Homo sapiens: one gene and its partners. The protein of the gene in region 2 interacts with the protein of the main gene of each other region in a pairwise test. Each region holds a gene or a part of one and is shown on either strand. Other genes may lie near its edges.

Evidence for each region. Proteins that work in one complex are often made in the same cells at the same time.
Region 1: the proteins of FAM168B (region 2) and PATZ1 interact in binary tests that used the Homo sapiens proteins (3 or more experiments, as listed by UniProt).
Region 3: the proteins of FAM168B (region 2) and FAM222B interact in binary tests that used the Homo sapiens proteins (3 or more experiments, as listed by UniProt).

What each region holds. Positions count from the first base shown.
Region 1 is NC_000022.11:31,336,322-31,343,346, forward strand, and holds part of PATZ1 (POZ-, AT hook-, and zinc finger-containing protein 1 isoform long C), read right to left. Parts: intron 6,640-7,025; coding exon 6,576-6,639; intron 5,363-6,575; coding exon of another isoform or gene 5,084-5,362; exon of another isoform or gene 4,358-5,083; intron 1,701-4,357; exon of another isoform or gene 1,347-1,700; intron 1-1,346. UniProt on the Homo sapiens protein: Transcriptional regulator that plays a role in many biological processes such as embryogenesis, senescence, T-cell development or neurogenesis. Interacts with the TP53 protein to control genes that are important in proliferation and in the DNA-damage response.
Region 2 is NC_000002.12:131,055,440-131,062,464, forward strand, and holds part of FAM168B (myelin-associated neurite-outgrowth inhibitor), read right to left. Parts: intron 257-7,025; coding exon 114-256; intron 11-113; coding exon 1-10. UniProt on the Homo sapiens protein: Inhibitor of neuronal axonal outgrowth. Acts as a negative regulator of CDC42 and STAT3 and a positive regulator of STMN2. Positive regulator of CDC27.
Region 3 is NC_000017.11:28,762,766-28,769,790, forward strand, and holds part of FAM222B (protein FAM222B), read right to left. Parts: intron 3,943-7,025; 5' UTR 3,903-3,942; coding exon 3,821-3,902; intron 1-3,820.

The sequences.
Region 1 (7,025 bases), on a different chromosome or scaffold from region 2:
ATATTTGTTCATTTTATTCAAAAGTGACATTAGTCTTGGCCAGGGAAATGGAAAGGAAAGGCAGGACAAAGTGCAGAGATAATTATTCGTAATATTTTCACGAGTTTGAATTGAAAAAGCAGCCCATTAAATGATAGTGGCAATTCTGACGACATGAGAATTAGCAGACAGCAAGGGCCAGAGGCTTCAAAAGTGTCTGTGGGCCGGGTGCGGTGGCTCATGCTTGTAATCCCAGCGCTTTGGGAGGCCGAGATGGGTGGATCACCTGAGGTCAGGAGTTCAAGACCAGCCTGGCCAACATGGTGAAACCCCATCTCTATTAAAAATATAAAAAATTAGCCGGGTGTGGTGGCAGACTCCCGTAATCCCAGCTACTTGGGAGGCTGAGGCAGGAGAATCACTTGAACCTGGGAGGTAGAGGTTGCAGTGAGCCAAGATCGTGTCACTGCACTCCAGCCTGGGCAACAAGTCAAGACTTCCTCTCAAAAAAAAAAAAAAAAAAAAAAATCCGGGCGCGGTGGCTCACACCTGTAATCCCAGCACTTTGGGAGGCTGAGGCGGGCGGATCACGAAGTCAGGAGATCAAGACCATCCTGGCTAACACGGTGAAACTCGGTCTCTACTAAAAACACAAAAAAATTAACCAGGCATGGTGGCAGGTGCCTGTAGTCCCAGCTACTCGGGAGGCTGAGGCGGGAGAATGGCATAAACCCGGGAGGCAGAGCTTGCAGTGAGCCGAGATCACACCACTGCACTCCAGCCTGGGCAACAGAGCAAGACTCCGTCTCAAAAAAAAAAAGCATTTGTGAAACGTTAAGCTGGGGAAGTGCTGGTGACAGCAAGGATGATGATACTACCCTGTATTGATTAAGCATTCATTGTGTGCCAGGCAGGCACGGTGCTCAGCCTTTTAGAGGCACTTATCTCATGCAACCCATCCTGACAGCAGCCCTCCGAGGCAAGCTGTGTGATCACCCTCCAAGACAGCGTGGCTTTGGAAAGCTGTGGTGTGAGCTGAGCACCAACTCACAGCCAGGCCCCCGGGGTTGGATGAGTCAGGAGCTGAAGGTCAGAACCAGCACCCTGGAAGGAGGACTCAGGTTGGCAGGCACTTCCTGTACCTGAGCACCTGACTTAGTACCAGTGATCAGTCTCCTCACAACATCCCTTCCTCAGCTGGAGCTTACAAAGGCATTCCAGCTGTGGGGGTCATAGAATATTGGGAAAGCCCTGAGAAGAGCTGAATCCGTTGGCTTTCAAGCTATTTTGGTTCCAGGGAGGTGTTTCATGGGTTCTAGTCAATTTTGACTCATTTCTTTTGTGTGTGTGTGTGTTTACTGTTTTAGAACTGTAAGAGAAAGCAACATTCACCTTTGTGTCACAGATCAAATGGTAACCCACTGAAGACCACCCCATTACCTTGTGCTAGAACGGAACTGCCTCTGCCATCTCTCTTTAACAGAAGCACATCCTGAGAACCTGAGAGCTCAAGGTAAGTGGCTGAACACTGTCAACACATACAGACATCTAACTGTCTCCTTACTGTACAGCCATAGCAAGAAACAAACGCATGCAATGCTGTCAAGGTAGAAGACACCACTGTTTACTACCCCAGTCCCAAATATCTGTGTACGTTAGCACAGCCTACCTAGCTCTTCTGTCATTGTCTTTTTAAGTAAACATTATACATTTGAACTGAATTTGTAGCAATGACATACTGCTTTTATCTGTTTTATATATTCAGTGTATTCATATCATAAATGAGGAAACCTTCAGAAGGTGAACTTGCTTAAAACACAAGACTCAGCTACTAAAGAAAGTCTAGCACACCCACCCCCACCACACCCAGGCCAGTACTTTACCAATCCTCCTGGACACCCTGGGGGATTCTGATCTCTCCCAGTTTACAGCTGGGCCAGTGGAGGCCGTGAGAGGATATGAGACAGCTGGACTAAGAACCAGTCCCAGAGCCTGTGCTCTTACCATCTCCAGATTCAGGAGAGGGAGCTTCTGCTGAGTGAAAGGTGCTCATACTTTATAACACAGTGTACAGTACTTGGCAGCCAGGACTCCCAAAAGGGAAAGGTGAACAGATTTGTGCAAGGAAATTCCAGCATGTAGGAAGTCAGAAAGCACCATGGATGCTTGCTCTCATGGCCACATGTGGGCCCCACGTCAGCCAGGGACCTCATGACCCAGTGACAGGCCACAGTAGGAGAAAAAAACTCCTAACCTCTACACAGCCCAGCAGTCTCTAAACCAGAGCAGGGGCTGCATAAACACCCCCGGGAAAGAGAGGTACACCTGTTGATTTATTTGGGGACAAGAGCTAGCTTTGCCAGGCAGCGACCCAAAGACCACCCCTCCAATGGTGAGAGAGGGTGTGTTCTAAGCCTCAGAACTCAAAGGAACCAACATGGATCAGGTGTAAGAAAACAGGGCTGAGGCCAGGCGCAGTGGCTCACACCTGTAATCCCAACACTTTGGGAGGCCGAGGCGGGTGGATCACAATGTCAGAAGTTTGAGACCAGCCTGGCCAATATGGTGAAACCCCGTCTCTACTAAAAATACAAAAAAATTAGCTGGGCATGGTGGTGGGCGCCTGTAGTCCCAGCTACTCGGGGGCTGAAAGCATATTCAGGATTTTGTCTTCCACAGTCTCTGGGAGAGGGAGCCACAAGAGGGATAGGAAAGAGATGCCTTGTTTCTCTTGCCAACCTTCTTTTGGGATCTGTCCTCTAAAGGCTTTGCCTGTCATGCTTTGCTACCTAAAGATGATGGATAGCCAAACTTCAGTTACCCACAAGTGGCTTATCCATTTGGGGATTAGCTAAGCAAAATTAAAATCCCAGACTGGGCTGGCTTCCCCCACCCTGTCCTCCATTGATTATCTCTCAAGGAATGAAAGCTAACTTTCGCCTGAGCAAACAGAATTAGGAATGTAAATCTGCTGCTGGGGGAAAAAACACAAACATGACAAACGCTTTCCCTGTGTTCAAAGCCAAGCTGAAGTGATTGTTGGCTTCTCTGTGCCAGGATTGACCCTCTGCTGCTGCAGTCCCCAGGTTTTCTGGGGAGCCTGTGAAAGTCCAAAGTCTAGGCACAGCAGAAGTTCAGACAACACAGAACATGAAAGAGCCTGGTCACACAACCCAGGAGAGAAGGGGCGGAGGGAGACAGATCTCAAAGGGAACATCCAGAACTTCCATGCTGGGGTGTCAGGAGAAGAGCATTCTTTGTCCTAGAGACAGGGAGAAGACAGAGGGACGCTGATGGGAAGAGAGTGAGCCAGAGGCAGAATGCTTTGACTGCCTGTGGCACTCGGAAGAGCTGCCCGGCCCACAGCCCTGTGCTTAGTTAGACAGCCTGCTGTAATTAAGGGCCATGCCTGCCAGGTCCTGGCCCAGGCACCCTGAGTGCAGGTCATCACCACTCAACACTGAGCCCCAGTCCTGCTCCCTTCCCAGACTTCCTAAAGCTTTTCTTCCTAAGGATTGAGCAGCTTGGGAATGGGGCCCAAGTGGTACCAAGGGCACTAGTGCACACCCCCACCCTTAGTAGCCCTTGAACTCAGGCAGCCTCAGGGGTAGTCTCAAGCAGCTTTCTCCCACAGCCCTGGAAAACTCTAAGGGCAATGCATGAAGGTTCAGCTCCCTGGGCTCTTTGGCCCCCTTCTTCTCGAGCATATGCCCATCTCAACGCATTCCTTCTCTAACCAGCCCCCAAGAAGTGGAGCCCGTGGAAGCTAGGGAGGTCTGAGCTGCTCCAGCCTCTCAGCTTCAGGTTGAACTCCATGTGGGGGAAATGTCCCAGCCCACTAAGCTCATAAATCCAGCAGTACCTGGGGCATCTGGGCCAGTTAAGGACACTCAGGCCAAGTCCCAAAGAGACATGCCACTGTCAAGCCTGAGGCTTCCTGCCCCTACATTCAGATGGCCTTTCTACTTAAGCTATGGCACTAGTCTCTGTAACTGGCCTCTTTCATTCTCTCTGGCATCAGGAGGGGATGAGCGATACGGACTGTGCCTAGCCAGTGGGGAACTCAAGGAATGAACTCCCAGAGAGCCGTCTCTTCACCTCTTATGTTTTCAGCATCCCCACACTATGCCAACAGGTGCCCCTGCTGTTTAACCAAGTCCAGGCACACCTGGCTGGCCAGCCCAGAGCAAGAGAGCCAGCATGTCTTCACCTGCTGGGTCCGTTAGGGGAGTTGTGGCTGTAGGGCTGGAGGAGGGGCCAGCAGGTCTGTGAGAGTGTATGTTGGGAGGGGCAGGGCAGGAGCGCATTTGTACACCAAGGGACAGTGATGTCAGTGTTATGACACAGACCAAGGACAAAACACACAAAGCCTCAAATGTTAGAATGAAAAATTTTATCATCACTCCTGTTCACCCCGCAGAGTCTGCGGAGTGCTAAAGGGCACACCAATAAGGATCCGAGGGAGGGGGTCTACATCTGCTTTTTCAGCCCCCAAAGCCATATATTGGGGTGGCCCAATATAAAGCTACTCATTAGTTTGGTTCCTGAGCAGACCTGCTAATAAACCTCAAAAACACAAAAGTCTACTTCACTAGCCAGAAATGAAAGCAGGATCTAGATCTGAGTGGGAAGGGCAGAGGGCAGCATGGGTTGACTCTAGTTGGAATTGTGCCAGTCTTCTCTGGAGGCCGACTCACTCGTGGAGTGGGGAAAGGGGTGGCCAGGCCCCAGTCTAGAAACCCCAGGCCTATGGGAAGTGATGCCAGGGGAAGGGAAGCAGATAAGCTGGTGGCTAGTTCCCAGGAAGGCACCAACCTCCAAAATCACCTAGGCAAGGACAGATGCCCAGGGGTGCCATCTGTGAAAGGGGGGAAAAGGCAAGAGAGCCCAGAAAGAAACTTGGATGCTATAGGGGGTTCCAGAAAGGTGCTCCTTGCTACCCCCATTTGGGGGCTCTGACATGGGAAAGACTCCGAGTCACCCAGGGAGGAGCTGGGCATGCTGGGCAGGAACCACCCTGCTAGCCTCTCCCAAAAGCAGGGGTCTCAGGCCAAATGCCCCTCCTGTTCCCTTCCACTGTCAACCCTCTCCAGGGAGGCCCAGGCTAGCCAACAGGCCACTGGGTAAAGGCCCTGCTGCCCTCTGGGGTGGTCCAGCCCTGCCTCAGATATCCCGGCGGGGCTGGGCAGAAGAGAGTGTTGCTGGAGTGTGCTGGGCCCAGGTTTTCAAGGGCTGGGAATGATTTTTTTAGAGAAAGGGAAAAGGCGGTGTCAGGAACCGAATGGGACGACCTCCACAAAGCAGGCTGGGCAAAGTCCCATGATGGCAGGTCGCTAGGAAGAGGTTCCAGGGGCGGCAGGCCGCTGCTGCTCCCAACCCACACCTGGAAAAAGGGCAGAGAGTGCAGGTTACCCCCCCAGGCCACCGGGCTTGCCCCCACTGCCCTCTGGGCTCCTCCTACTCTGCCCGGGCTAATCAGCACACTACCTGAGTCAGAATGTGCTCTGTGATGAGAGAATCAGAGACAGAGAGAGAGAAGGCAGCAAGGCAAAGACAGATCCCAGCAGGCCCACCCTGGGTCATCCTCCAGGGAGACTGCCTAGCCCAGCACCTGTGAACACCGTCCACGCCTGACCCCCAGGGGCTCTGCCCTACTTACGGCACATTCATCCCTCCCTGCTGGTCTCCCTGAACCCTCTCCCCTTGCCACCAACAGGATAAGGAGAAGCAGGTTATCCTATCAGAGACTGCAGTGCACACCCCACAATCATGGCTCGCCCTCACTTGATGGGAACTTGGCATGGGAGAGGGGAGATAACCAAGGAGAAGACAGAGGTGTGTTCGCTATCCACACAGGAAGGCTCAGTGGCCAGGAGAGGAAACTCAATCTTTTGGGTACCAGCAGGGCCCCCAGATATTGTTCAAGCAGGTAAACCAAGGGTGAGAATCTATCTGGTCCAGCGTTTCCTACCTGCTACTTTGCAAAGAGCTAAAAGAAGAAGAGCCCACTTTGCTCTCCAGTCCTCCAGAAACCCTGGCTTAGGATGGGTTAAACAGATGCCAGTGTGGGAGAGGGGACCACCCACTCCCTACCTCCTACCTCCCCCACTGCCTTGTGCCCTAAGCTGAGGGGACCCAGGAGGAGCTCTAACTGAGGTCAGAAAAGGGGAAGAGTGGTTGGCTGGACCACCAGGAGCCCTTTTAAAAAAACCTGCAGTCCCTACAAACTGCTGGAAACCAACAGTCAGGCCCAGCGCAGTGCCGGGTCTCCCAACACAACATCTGTGTGATACGGCCCACCATCCAAGGAGCCGGCAAACACCAGGAGAGGAAAGCCAAGCAACAGAGTGAAGGCAAAGACAGGGTGGGAACCAGGACCAAGCAACCAGGAAGGAGGAACGTCAGCTGTGGGGGAAGGGGGCCTGGGGGAAGAACAAAGGAGGAGAGCAGAGGGAGGGTGGAGGAACAGAGGGGAGGTGTGCAAAGCGGTGGGCGGTCAGCCGGGCCCCCGGCACACGCAGCGGCTGGCTCAAGGCTGCGACCGTGAGAACAGCATCATCTCCTTCAGCCCATCTCTGCCCTGACCCAGCCCCTACCTGACACTTGTGAGGCCGCTCAGAAGTGTGCACCTGCTTGATATGTCCGTTCAAGTGATCAGGCCTGGAAAAGAGAGAACCAAGAGGGACTTTAGAAACTTGGCCAGACCCCACCACACAGGCACATATGCATACGTGTGTACACACACACACACACTCACTGCTGGAAAGGACTCCCTCTCCCCAACCCCAGCATGACAAAGACAAAGTCACCACCCAGTTCTGGCTCCACAGGCCCAGGCCTCTCTGCCCTGGTTTTCTCTGGAGGGGGGAAGAGAAATGGGCATTTGTCTCTGATTTTGCCTCCCCACTCCCTCAATTCTCCCCACCAGAAACTCAGTGTTTTCTAGGACCAGAGGCGGTGGCAGTAGAATGAAACAGAGCTGCCTCACTGCAGCCTTTCCAGGAGGGGATATGTGATTCATTGTCCAGACTAAAGCCCCTTAGAAA
Region 2 (7,025 bases):
ACGTGCCTTGCTGTGGGGAGAAGAGAGACAACTGACACAGGGTCCCAGGGCCAAAGGATGAACGCCCAGGTGGTATCACCCCTTCCCACACAGCAGTGTGTACCCAAGCATACCTGTGCATACGGGCTCTGCTGGGGGTAGGCACTTCGCACAGGGTACACGGCAGTCTGGTAGGGGTTCGGGGAGGAGGAGTACGGTGGCACAGCCCCGCTGGTGGGGGAACAGGACACTTTGTAAGGTGTGCCAGGAGTGTAACCTGGAACAAAGAAGGCAATGGCCTGAGTTCACCCAAGCCGGTCCAGGCGCAGGGAGAGGACACAGGCAGGGAGGAGCTAAGCTGCGTGTCAGCCCCACGCAACTCGCCAGACCTGCTGCCACTGCCGCCCCCACTCTCCTCCACTAAGATCTGACTTCATTCTTACTTTGTGTACGTGTGTGCATGCACGTGTGTGTGGTGGCAGGGTGTTGGGGAGGAGGAAAAAATACCAAAAGAGAACGTTCTACAGATGGAATGCTCACACAAGGACAGGAAATAAAAACTGTCTTGTCCTGCTGGAATTTAAATTGGTATGGCATTCCTGGGGCTAAACTTGGCATCTAAAGTATATATGCCTTTTAATCCCACAATTCCACTTCTAGAAGTCTGTCTTAAAGCAATACACATGGATCTATACACACACAGAGACTTAACTGTAAGCATGCTCATCATAGTGTTGTTTGTTACAGCAAAAACAGGAGAAACTTGCCCAGCACCAGGACTGGCTAAGCACTCTATGGTAAAAAGCCCTCTGGGTTAAGGGAGAAAGCTGAACACACATACTTGCTTTTGTCCCCACACAAAATGACATGAAAATGACAATAAAGCAGATTAAGAGAAAAAAGACATAAAACTCACCAAGAATGGAAGAGAAGACAGCATGTTGAAGCCTGGCAAGCTGAAGTGGAGGATGATTGAGCAGACTCGAGAAGAAGGCACTCAGCCAGCAGCGAGGAGCAGCTGGCACCAAGAGAGCCGTTCCCCAAAGCCCTGCAAACTGCTGGCCACCAACCCGTCTCCAGAAGCAGATAAAGAGACCCCATCTAGTAGAGTGGTTGAGTTTGCTGAATAAGCAGTTAGGTGTCCCTTCCTGACCCCAACAGAGAAGAGGGGTTTGGTCTCAGGGGAGGGAGAGGGTCTCTGGACAGCTATGTTCACAGCAGCTATATTCACAATGATCAAAAGCTGGCAATGGCCCAGATGCCCACCAGGAGACAAATGGGTAAACACACTGTGGTGCATCCATACAAATCCTACTGAGCAAGCCAAAGGGACAAACTGCTGATCCATACAAGCACATGAATGAATCACAAAGCCACACCATGTCAAAGGAGCCAGATACAAGGACACATGCTGGATGCATGTACTGACAGAAGCTCTAGGAAAGACCAACCTAATCCAGAGTCATCAAAACCCCAGCAATGGTGCCAGGGGCCAGAGGGGCATGCGAGAACCTTTCCAAAGAGTGCATTCACTCAAATGTGGTGACGGTCATACAGCTGTGTATGACTGTCCAAACATACCAAACTGTACACTGAGAAGGATTAACTTATAATATGTAAATCAGACCTCCATACAAGTGCTTATGGCATCTCACATTCCCATGGGTGAGAGCAGGAGGGGTGGAGCACTCACACACTGTCCGTGTCAGACAGTGCAACTTTGCAAGCCAGAGACACATCCCGCAACATCCAGCAATCCACTCCCAAAACTTCCCCTAGAAAAATGAAAACACAGGTCCACGAAAGACTTGTAAAAAGTGTTCAATCTTATTCCTAGTAGCCAAAAATGGGAACTAATCCAAATCTTCATCAACTGGAGAAAGGATAAATCATGATATGTCTCTATAAACATTACTCAGCAATCAAAAGGAAAAAACATGGATGAATCTCACAACATGCTGAGCTTTCCAAAGAAGCTGGAAACAGAACAGCACATAGAGCAATGATCCCGTTTATTCCCTAACAACAAAGAAATTTACCTACGGTGACGGAAATCAGAGGGGAGAGGGCGAAGAAAGCGTTCTGGGATGATCAAAGTATTCCATGTTTTATTTGGAGTGGTGGTTCCATGGGCATGTACAACTGTCAAAACCCACCCAGTTGAGCACTTAATATGTGGGTGTTTTGTGCATAAATTATACCTCAAGTTTGAAAAAATGAGCTGAGTATAAAGAATTTTGGATCACCTGAGCCGGAGGTCAACGCTGCAGTGAGCTGTAATTATGCCTCTGCATTCTGCCTGGGCGACAAAGTAAGACGCTGTCTCAGAAAAATAGTAATAATAATTAAAGTTAATTTTTAAAAAATTTTACACAACTGGGCTGTTAGCAATATGTACGTGTGTGTATTTTTTTTTTATTTTTATTTTTTGAGATGGAGTCTTGCTCTATTCCCTAGGCTGGAGTGTAGTGGTGCAATCTCAGCTCACTGCAGCCTCCGCCTCCTGGGTTCAAGCAATTCTCATGCCCCAGCCACCCGAGTAGCTGGGATTGCAGGCATGTGCCACCACATCCAGCTAATTTTTGTAATTTTTAGTATAGACGGGATTTTGCCATGTTGGCCAGGATAGTCTGGAACTCCTGGCCTCAAATGATCCTCCTGCCTCAGCCTCCCAAAGTAGTAGGATTACAGGTGTGAGCCTGTATATATATATGTGCCTGGTCCATATATTTTGTTTTAATTTGAAAGGGAAAGAGAATGATTGGCCCCCTGGGAAATTCACTAGTCTGGGGCCTTTTGTTTGGGGTGCCAGTGCAATTCTGTGACATGGATATATTGCACAGTGGTGAAGTCTGGGCTTTTTCACCTAAATACTGCACACTGTATCAATTAAGCAACACGAAGCCTTCAACATCAGCCTTCTCATACTCCCCTGCATGCCCTTTCATGGTCTCACGGTGGGAGGTGCTGTGGCTGAGATCTGCAGCAGACCAAACAACAGGTGGTCCTGTCCTATGCAGCAAAGCGGGTGCTCACACCCAGATTTGTCTGCATCCAGAGTCCTGACCCTTCTACCCAAACCAAGCAACTCCCAACCTCAGCTAGTCTCCATTTGAAGAAAGAAAAGATTCCTCCAGGGCTCCCTGTATTTTGAAATTCGCTCACCGCTATGTTAACCGTAAATAGAAACACTGCCAAAATTTGAATACAACAACTTTTTAATACTGGTGCTTGGCCAAAGGAAAGCAGAATACGCAGATTTTCCATTAGGATTTGGAAAAGCAAGTTTCAAGACAAGAGCAGTTACAGAGTTTCCTTCTCTGGCTGCTCATCTCCTCGTCTTTAAGAAGGCTAAAAAAGGAAAGTGAAAAGGAAAGCTTCACAGGTGTACACAGGTTAAAACTCATCAAACTGAAGCTTTAAATCTGTACACTTAGTTGTATGCCAATTACGCCACAACGAGGTTGTATAACATTTTCTTTAATTATAAAGAAAAAGGTAGTGTGAATGCCATCAAAGAATTATAAAGGAAAAGGTAGTGTGTCCGGCCATGTACTGATACTCCCAGGAGACCCGGGACAGTCCAATTCCCCCTAAGTGACTAGCTAACTCAGGGAAGAAATGCAAAAAGGAAGCATGGTGTGTGGCGGGCACACATGTGACTAGTGAATGGTGACTGGGGCATTGTACCAACACAGAGAGGCTATTCACCATCAACATGGGGCCATGCCCTGTCACAGCGGAGATGATCAGGACAGATCCAGCCCTCTCCATAAGGTGCTTGGCTTCAGGGGGAAAAGAAATCACAGGAAAACAAACCACCAACATAGCAGCATTTTATGCAGTCTTGGCAAGCAATGAGGAGTCAGCTCAGAGAGGGGCAGGTGGGGCAAGGATGTCTCAAATGAAAGAAACTGTGGGGATGAGGGACGTCAAGGGTCATCTTGGATAGCTCCCTTCTCCCCAGCCACACCACCTCTTTCATTTCCCACCACCATGCAGCAGCCAGACACCAGCGGGTACCTTCAGCTGTACCTAAAGGAGACACTGCCGAATGGGATCCCCACTGTACGGCTTAATCCCAGTTTTCTGCCTCATATTTCCACTAGCCTGAAAAGAGATCCTCCCAGGAGTCACCAAACTCTTATCTGACCAAGATGATATTTTTTTTATAAAAATGTCAAAACATAGAGCTACCCTCTGTGTGTCACATCCTGAGAACAGATGCTAGACTTCAAAGTTGGGAATCTCATTCCAAACTTCCAACAGTTTAAACAAACAAACCCACAGGGTTCCCTTTCTTCATACAATTAAAAACATTCATGACAGATAACTGGAAATATGAACACTGATTACAATCTCAGTAGTGATAAAAAAAATTTTTAGGTGTGACAATGACACAGTTCTAATTTATCTTTTAAAGATAATATTTAAAAAGCTGATGAATATAATGTCTGAGATTTGCTTCAAAATAATACAGAGGAAAGTGGCAGGGGCCCAGATGAAAAAGATCAGCCATAAGGTGGTAACTGCTAAAGCCAGGTGATGTGTAGGTGGGAAGTATATTCCCATGTACTTGTGCTTAAGCCAGGTGATGTGTGAGCAGGAATTTTTTTTTTTGGATGGAGTCTCGCTGTCTCGCTCTGTCACCCAGGCTGGAGTGCTGACACCATCTTGGCTCACTGCAACCTCCACCTCCCAGGTTTAAGAGATTCTTCTGCCTCAGCCTCTCAAGTAGCTGGGACTACAGGCGTGCACCACCACACCCAGCTAATTTTTGTATTTTTAGTAGAGATGGGGTTTCACCATATTGGCCAGGCTGGTGTCGAACTCCCAACCTCGTGATCCGCCTGCCTTGGCCTCCCAAAGTGCTGGGATTACAAGCGTGAGCCACCGCGCCCGGCCGTGAGTAGGAATATTCCCATGTACTTGTGCTAAAGCAAGGCAATGTGTGAGTGGGAATTATGTTCCCATGTATTTCTGTAAATATCTGAAACGTTTCCTAATCACTCTTTTGAAGTCAAAGTATTAAAAAATACAAGGAAGACTGCTACAGATTGAAAGAGATAAGAGACATAAATTCAACTTTATAAAAAATTCACTATGTGATGCTGAGTACATTATTCTGATTCCAAACGTTTTTTAAAACTTAGGGGGTAACTGGGCAAATGTAAATAGGAGCTACTTTTAAAATTAGAGACCTGCTGTTTCTAAGTGTGGACAGGCAAAAGCACACCTCACTCATGTTAGGGAGGGCTACACTCAAGTCCATTGGACAAGACACAAAGGATTCTGAATTGATTCCACAAGAATAAAAGAAAAACCACACAACACTCATCCTTACATAAGGTAAATATGGGGAAAGATCACTGGGGAATCTAAGTGGTGGGTACTATGGACATCCACTGTATTGTCCGCTCAACTTTTCTGTATACGTAATTTTTTTTTTTTGAGACGGAGTCTCGCTCAGTTGCCTAGGCTGGAGTGCAGTGGCGCAATCTCAGCTCACTGCAAACTCCGCCTCCCGGGTTCACGCCATTCTCCTGCCTCAGTCTCCTGAGTAGCTGGGACTACAGGCGCCCACCACCAAGCCTGGCTAATTTTTTTTTTTTTTGGTAGAGACGGGGTTTCACCGTGTTAGCCAGGATGGTCTTGATCTCCTGACCTTGTGATCCACCCACCTTGGCCTCCCAAAGTGCTGGGATGACAGGCGTGAGCCACCGCGCCTGGCCCAATTTTTTTAATAAGGTGGAAGGCCGGGCGTGGTGGCTCACGCCTGTCATCCCAGCACTTTGGGAGGCCAAGGTGGGCAGATCACATGAGCCCAGGAGTTGAGACGAGCCTAGCCAAGCTGGCAAAACCTCGCCTCCAAAATTTAAAAAAAAAAAAAAAGTAAAAATAAGCAAGGTGAAAAGTATACAGTACTTTCAGATGCTGACACACAACTGAGAGCGTGTACGCTAGCCAGAAAATCTCCATGGAAACAACAGTCATGCATGAGGTAAAAGAACAAGCAAGGAAGTTAGCTGAAAGGGCCCACGGATCACCACACCCAAACGCACCCCTAGAAGATGAATTATAGTCAGGCGCAGTGGCTCATGCCTGTAATCCCAGCACTTTGGGAGGCTGAGGCAGGCGGATCACCTGAGGTCAGGAATTTGAAACCAGCCTGGCCAACACGGTGAAACCCCATCGCTACTAAAAATACAAAAGTTAGCCAGGCTTGGTGGCCACACGACTGTAGTCCCAGCCACTCGGGAAGCTGAGGTGGGAGAATCAGCTGAACCTGGGAGGTGGAGGTTGCAGTGAGCAGAGACTGCGGCAATGCACTCCAGCCTGGGCGACAGAGGGAGACCCTGTCTCGAAAAAAAAAAAAAAGAAGAAGAAGATGAATACAAAATTTTGCCAAGCCTTTAAAAAGGCCATCAGCAGGAAGGATTCTATAGCAGTCTGAAAGATGCTGATCTGGAAGATGGCCTGGCAGTTAGGCATAGGCTGGAAAAAAAGTTAAACTATGCCACTGGACATGTTCAATATATACAGCCAATGTGCAACAAGAAGTTACAGTTCTATCTGATAAACTGATTCACTAAAGAAAGAATGAGAAGAAAAAGGAAAAGCTGTTAAAAGAAGTCAAAACAAGCAATAAACCCACGACCCACATCCATCAACATTGCTAATAAGAAAGTCCTTGACCTTTTTATCACTCTTCAAACTGCAGAAAGAGCTCAGAGTGAAGAGAAGATGCAAGCTGCCAACCCAAACAAACCTCTAATACAGAGTATAAAACCAAAGTGAGGAAAATCTGAGAACACCTCTCTCCAAAGAGGGAGTCTCTCAGCCACAAGTGCTCATCTGGCCCACCACAGCCACTGAAAAAAGGTGAAGTCCTTTTTCATGCCTCATTTCCTTAGGATACACAGTCGAGGGGCCCACCTACGATGTCTTCCTTTTCTTCTACTGGAAGCCTCCCACTGCAGAAATCCCTGCAGCTAGCCCTAGGTTTCCCAATCCAATCACCCAAGGTGTCTTTTTTGTTTTTGTTT
Region 3 (7,025 bases), on a different chromosome or scaffold from region 2:
GTCTCTACTAAAAAAATACAAAAAATTAGCCGGGCATGGTGGCAGGTGCCTGTAATCCCAGCTACTCGGGAGGCTGAGGCAAAGAATTGCTTAAACCCGGGAGGCAGGGTTGCAGTGAGCCAAGATCGCACCACTGCACTCCAACCTGGGTGACAGAGTAAGACTCCGTCTCAAAAAAAAAAAAAAAAGTTTTCTCAACACTTATCACAGCCCCCACACAGGCACCCTGACTACTTATTTTCTTCTGTAATGTATTTCTGTAACTACACAGCCAACACAGATACCACAGCTTTGTAAGCGACTTACTTAAATAGCTTATACCAATAGTGTCATTAATAGAGACATAGACAATGTAGGGAATAGGAAATCTGTAGTTTGTAAAGGGTTAGAGAAACCTGTATTCAAGTACTAGCTTCATCATTTGCCCATACTGAGAGCCTGTCATTCCTCAATTATCAACAGGGATGAATTCTGCTCTCCTACTTCACAGAATTACTAAGATCGAGAGTCAATGAACATTTTCACTAAATGAGCATTTTCATTGAAAATGAAACAATGATGGTCAATAGTTACCATTCAAGGATAGCAGATGTGGCTGAGTCTGACCACAGACAACACAAAGAAAACTGACTAAGGAAGCCCCAACTGCAGGACAACCTGGCCTTCAGCCTGAGAGTTAAATGTAACAGAAAGCACTGCTGTCTATTCCAGGATGGACTGGAGGCAATTTTCTGCCTGAAATTCAGTCCTCCCAATGGAGACCTCTCTGTTCATCCTTCTGTTTTGAAGGTCAGAGGGCACAGGTGGCATAGGCAACAGGAACCTCTATCTGTAGGCAGAGAGGCACAGGCAATGTGTTCAAACACAGATTTCAGAGTCTGAGCTGAGTATGGGCCAGTCACAGGACTGTCATGTGGCACTGGCAAGTGACAAACCCTCTCTCTATACCTTATCCTTCTGACAAAGGCAAGAGAGTCTTCCATATGGAATTTTTGAGGAATGGGTGACAACATATGTGAAAATATTCAATATAGTGCCTGGCACATGGTAGCAACTTGACAAATGTTAGCTATTATTTCTATGACTTTATCCAGTCATTGGGTCAATCTGCCATTTCCAGACCCCTCCACTAGGGGGCAGATATGCACATAAAGAAGCAGTAAAAGAAGGTAATTTTGGCATTTGTCCCCAGAGCCCCAGTGTTCTGCCATGGAAGGAAATCAAAGTTGTTATCTGAAGATGGTTTAAGGACCAAGGACCTTTTATCAGCTATTCAAACAGTAAATATTTACAGAGCCACTACTATATTGTGATCCTGAGAAGGGGAAATACAGAGCAGAGGTTTAGGATTAAGAAAGAAAAAATTTCCAGTGGCGCATGCCTGTAATCTGAGCTACTCGAGAGACTAAGGCAGGAGCACTGCTTAAACCCGGGAGATGGAGGTTGCAGTGAACCGAGATTGCGCCACTGCACTCCAGTCTGGGTGACAGAGGGAGACTCCATCTCAAAAAAAAAAAAAAAAAAAAAAAGGGCCGGGCATGGTGGCTCATGCCTGTAATCCCACTACTCAGGAGACTGAGGCGGGAGAATCACTTGAACTTGGGAGGCGGAGGTTGCAGTGAGCCGAGATCGTGCCACTGCACTCCAGCCTGGGTGACAAGAGCAAAAGTCCTCCTCAAAATAATAAAATAAAATAAAGTGGGCTGGGTGTGGTGGCTCACACCTGTAATCCCAGCACTTTGAGAGGCCGAGGCAGGCGGATCACCTGAAGTCGGGAGTTCGAGACCAGCCTGACCAACATGAAGAAACCCTGTCTCTACTGAAAATACAAAATTAGCTGGGCGTGGTGGTGCATGCCTGTAATCTCAGCTACTCAAGAGGCTGAGGTAGAGAATCGCTTGAACCCAGAAGGCGGAGGTTGCGTTGAGCCGAGATCACGCCATTGCACTCCAGCCTAGCAACAAGAGCAAAACTCTATCTAAAAAAAATAATTAAAAAAAAAATAAAAATAATAAAAGTGAACACCAAGATAAAGCTGCCAATTTGCCCGTCCTCCAAATGGCTTTTCCCTTGATATCACATCTTTGGGTAAAGCTGTCAGAGTGTGTTAAGGAACCCAGAACAAAGGAAGCTTCTCTTTGTCATCTTACTGCATGCCTCTAAGTACGTTCCCTCTCCAGTTGTGTCCCCAGAAGCCCAGAAATAGGCACGATGCAGTTAGGATGCTGATTTGGATGACCAGAGAGTATAACATAACACCTTCATCACCCAATCATCACTTATTAAGATAAAGGATGGGTTGAGAAAGCTATAGCAGAGCTTGCCTTATTGTGTCAGGCAACTGTAGAAGGAGGACTACCACCTTCAGCTGTTATTACATAGAGCTGGATTCACTGGCCAAATTCCAGAACTAGCCAGGCTCTGAGTCTTACGCTCTCTCAAAGAAATGAAGTCTAAAGGCTGGACCATTTTTAACTTCTGATGATGTTCTCACATGGCAGGGGCTGGCAAACGACAGCCTGCGTGCCTGGTCCAGTTGCTGTTTTTTTGTAAAAAAGTTTCACTGGAACACAGACACCCTCATTTGTTTATTGTCTGTGGCTGCCGTTGCCCTACAATGCCAGAGTTGAGTAGATGCAACAGAGACCACATGGCCCACAAAGCTTAAATTATTGGCTATCTGGGCTTTACAGAAAGTTTGTTAACCCCTGTCATAAGGGGTTCAGTTAAGGTGCTGAAGCACCTTTCCTATCAAAGGGAAGCCTAGCCACCTCAATGATTTCCCCTTTGTGCTCTGAATGGAAGGTCTATTCCAAATTTAGGGCTGTTTTTACACCTGAAGATACTATACATGGTAATGTGCCAAGAATAGAATATTTTCCTTGCAGATCATGTATTACAGGGAGAGAAGGTAGGAAGGAGTCCGGGAAAATATGAAGTATAAAACCCCAATTCCAGAAAGTTAAGACAAGAATCTAACAGTTTTCAAAGGCTCAATCTTCTGGGAAGTGTATTAGCAGGAAAATGCCCAGAGAGACTGAGAAAGCTAGCTCTCCATCTCTTCTGAGGGCAAAAGCTCCCTGACTTCCTGTGAACTAAAGTCACACTGACTCAGAAGGCAGGTAGCAAAGCCAAAGGGAACTGTCTGTTTCCATGGTAGACTACTAAGAGAGTTCAAAACAAGAGAACAGCATAGTTTATTTCAGAGATATAGTAAGTAATCTGGACTGTGAGTTTTCATTCAATTCCCTATGAAGGTTCAAACTGAAACACCTTTTTTAAGGGTGATATATATATATATATTTCCCCTGAAGCTCTTTATAGTTTTGTTGTTCAACAGAAAGCTATCAGCAACAATTAAAATTGAGATACAATGGGGAATTACAGAATTTAAGCAGACCCCTAATGGCTGGACACAGTGGCTCACACCTGTAATCCCAGCACTTTGGGAGGCCAAGTTAGGGGCATCACCTGAGATCAGGAGTTTGAGACCAGCCTGGCCAACATGGTGAAACCCTATCTCTACTAAAAATAGAAAATTAGCCAGGCATGGTGGTGGGCACCTGTAATCCCAGCTACTCGGGAGGCTGAAGCAAGAGAATTGCTTAACCCGGGAGGGAGAGGTTGCAGTGAGCCAATCAAGATCGCGTCATTGCACTCCAGCCTGGGTGACAAGAGCAAGACTTCGTCTTAAAAAAAAAAAAAAAAGAAAGGTGTCAAAATTCAAGGTCAGTGTACCCCAGATGTGCTTCAAGGACGGCCCAAATGTAGAGACAAAAACAAAGAATCACACATGCTCCATAGGATCCAGATTACTTACATTTCTGAAGTCCAGTGTTCATCTGCGTGTGAGAAAGAAGCTGAAAGGACAGGTCACCTGGCCCTGGTAGACAGGCTAGCATGGCAGATTGGCATCAACACAACATGGGGCAGTGGCTCACACTGTAATGAACAAAAACAAGGTCATGAAACACAAGGCAACTCATTCGAAGAAGAGAGTAGGAACACTGGATATGACTGGCGTGAGGCCCAAGTTTAGACACATAAAGCAATTTAATTAGCAGTGTGTTGGTTGAAAGTATACTTACATCTTTATCTGTGACGACAATTTGCTGTCAAATATCACTATGGTTAAAATGATTTTTCAGTTACCACAGATGTATGGATGGGAGAAATAAAACTGGAAAGCACCTATTCATACAACTGGAAAGTACAGGTGCATTTATAATGTCTCAGTATTCCTGAGGAGAGTGGGCCCTCATAGGGCCTGGCTCAGCCAGCCCATTTATAGGCCTGGTTGGAGACCAGCCAGACATTTTCAGAAGCAGCACATTATATGATTGCAAAGGTACCCAATGTCTGACTTGTGAGCCAGTAATATGAACCCACTTTTATTTTATTTTTTTTGAGACGGAGTTTCACTCTTGTTGCCCAGGCTGGAGTGCCATGGTGCGATCTTGGCTCACTGCAACCTCTGCCTCCCAGGTTCAAGCGATTCTCCTGCTTCAGCCTCCCGAGTAGCTGGGATTAAAGGCACCCGCCACCACGCCTGGCTAATTTCTTTGTATTTTTAGTAGAGACGGGGTTTCACCATGTTGGCCAGGCTGGTCTCGAACTCCTGACCTCAGTTGATCCGCCCACCTCGGCCTCCCAAAGTGCCGGGATTACAGGTGTGAGCCACTGCACCCGGCCATGAACTTACATTTATTTACTTATTTATTTATTTATTTAAGACAGAGTTCTGCTGTCACCTAGGCTGGAGTGCAGTGGTACAATTTTGGCTCACTGCAACCCTTGACTCCTGAGTTCAAGCGATTCTCGTCCCTCAGCCTCTCTAGCAGCTGGGATTACAGGCGCATGCCGCCATGCCCAGCCAATTTTTGTACTTTTAGTAGAGATGGGGTTTCACCATGTTGGTCAGGCTGGTCTCAAACTCCTGACCTCAGGTGGTCCGCCCGCCTCAGCTTCCCAAAGTGCTGTGATTACAGTCATGAGCCACCGCACCCGGCCGAACTCACTTTTAAATGGAAGGAGGAAAGCATCCTAGGAGGCACAATTAACCACTGTTAAAGCAAATTCTGTTTGCAAATTTCTGGGGCTTCACCCTTCCTGACATGCAATTAGACCTCCTGAACTACCTCTCCCACCCCCTCAAAAGAAATGCATTGCTCCCAGACTAAAGCAAGGAGAAAGGCTGCCAGCAGCTCTCTTCGTGCAGGCAATCCTGACATGTCAAGACCGCACGAGTTTCATTAGTGATGTTTACCAACCAGACATACACAGCCCAAGCAAGCAGACATTGATGGGGCCTTCTGTAGCGAAAGAAGCCCTGTCAACAATGCAAGCTCCTTAGGTAACAGAAATACGATTTTCCTAAATAAGTACACGAACTTCTTTTCCCATATTTCAGAAACCAAGGTGGCAAATTATGGCTTTAGATCACAGCAAAAAAGGAGTGGGGGAAAAGCTCAAAAGTTAAAGACGACAAAAATCTCCTTATTTTCTTGAGAGGGCTCTCTCAGGTATATTAAACTACCTTGTCATGATGAGTATCAGAGGGCTCCTGCTTCCAAGACCAGGTAGCTGAAAAGACACTTTGTAAAAGAGGCTGCTCAAACTGTGTCTAAGATAGCAACTGCAGAAAGAACTGAAGATTGAATGCCTTAATGAGAACAGAGCTGTCCAAGAGTTCTGGCACAGCGTCAGTCTTTTTAAGATCTCTGGTGGGTGGGAAAACAGAATGAACACAGTGAGCCAACTTCAGTGCCTCAAGAAAAAAAAAAAGTCTTGGCCGGGCACGGTGGCTCACACCTGTAATCCCAGCACTTTGGGAGGCCGAGGCGGGCAGATTACCTGAGGTCAGGAGTTCGAGAACAGCGTGGCCAACGTGGTGAAACCCTGTCTCTACTAAAAATACAAAATTAGCTGGGCATGGTGGCGCATGCCTGTAGTCCCAGCTACTCAGGAGGCTGAGGCAGGAGAACTGCTTGAACCCAGAAGGCAGAGGTTGCAGTGAGCAGAGGCTGCGCCACTGCACTCCAGCCCGGGCCACAAGAGTAAAACTCTGTCTCAAAAAAAAAAAAAAAAAAAAAAAAGAGAGACTTCTGTTGGGGTCTGGATGCTGATCTTTACATAATAACTTCTCCCTTAAGACCCTAACACAGCTGAAGGCAAACTCCAAGGAAAGGAAGAGAATTAACAAGTACTGGGAGCTAAAACTGTGAAATGGGCTGTATGAGGGGCTTTAGTGATGTTTTCTTAATTGAGTCTCTCAAGCCTTGGAAACAGGTAACAAACTTCACCTGTCATCTCATCATCTCTAGATGGGATTACTATTAGCCTTCTAAATGGTCTGTTCCACGCTTACCCTTTATCACCCAATCTATTCTCTATTCAGCAATGTTAGTTCTTTTTTTTTTTTTTTTTTTTTTTGAGATGGAGTCTTGCTCTGTTCCCCAGCCTGGAGTGCAGTGGTGCGATCTCGGTTCACTGCAACCTCCGCTCCCGGGTTCACGCCATTCTCCTGCCTCAGCCTCCCGAGTAGCTGGGACTACAGGCGCCTGCCACCATGCCCGGATAATTTTTTTTTGTATTTTTAGTAGAGATGGGGTTTCACAGTGTTAGCCAGGATGGTCTCAATCTCCTGACCTCATGATCCGCCCGCCTCGGCCTCCCAAAGTGCTGGGATTACAGGCGTAAGCCACCGTGCCTGGCCCAAACGGGGTTTCACCCCATGTTGGCCAGGATGGTCTCGATCTCTTGACCTCGTGTTCCGCCCGCCTTGGCCTCCCAAAGTGCTGGGATTACAGACGTGAGCCACCGCGCCCGGCCAATTCTGTTAACTGAAAGTCAGAGCAGCTTAAATATCTCTAATGACTTTCCATCTAAGAATAAAATACAAAATCCTAACATGGACCCCAAGGCCCTCCATGATCTATTACTACTGGTTCTCTGACCTCACCTTCTGACCTACCCTGCCCTCTCTTGCTGACTTACTTCCAGCCACCATGGTCTCACCATGGTTT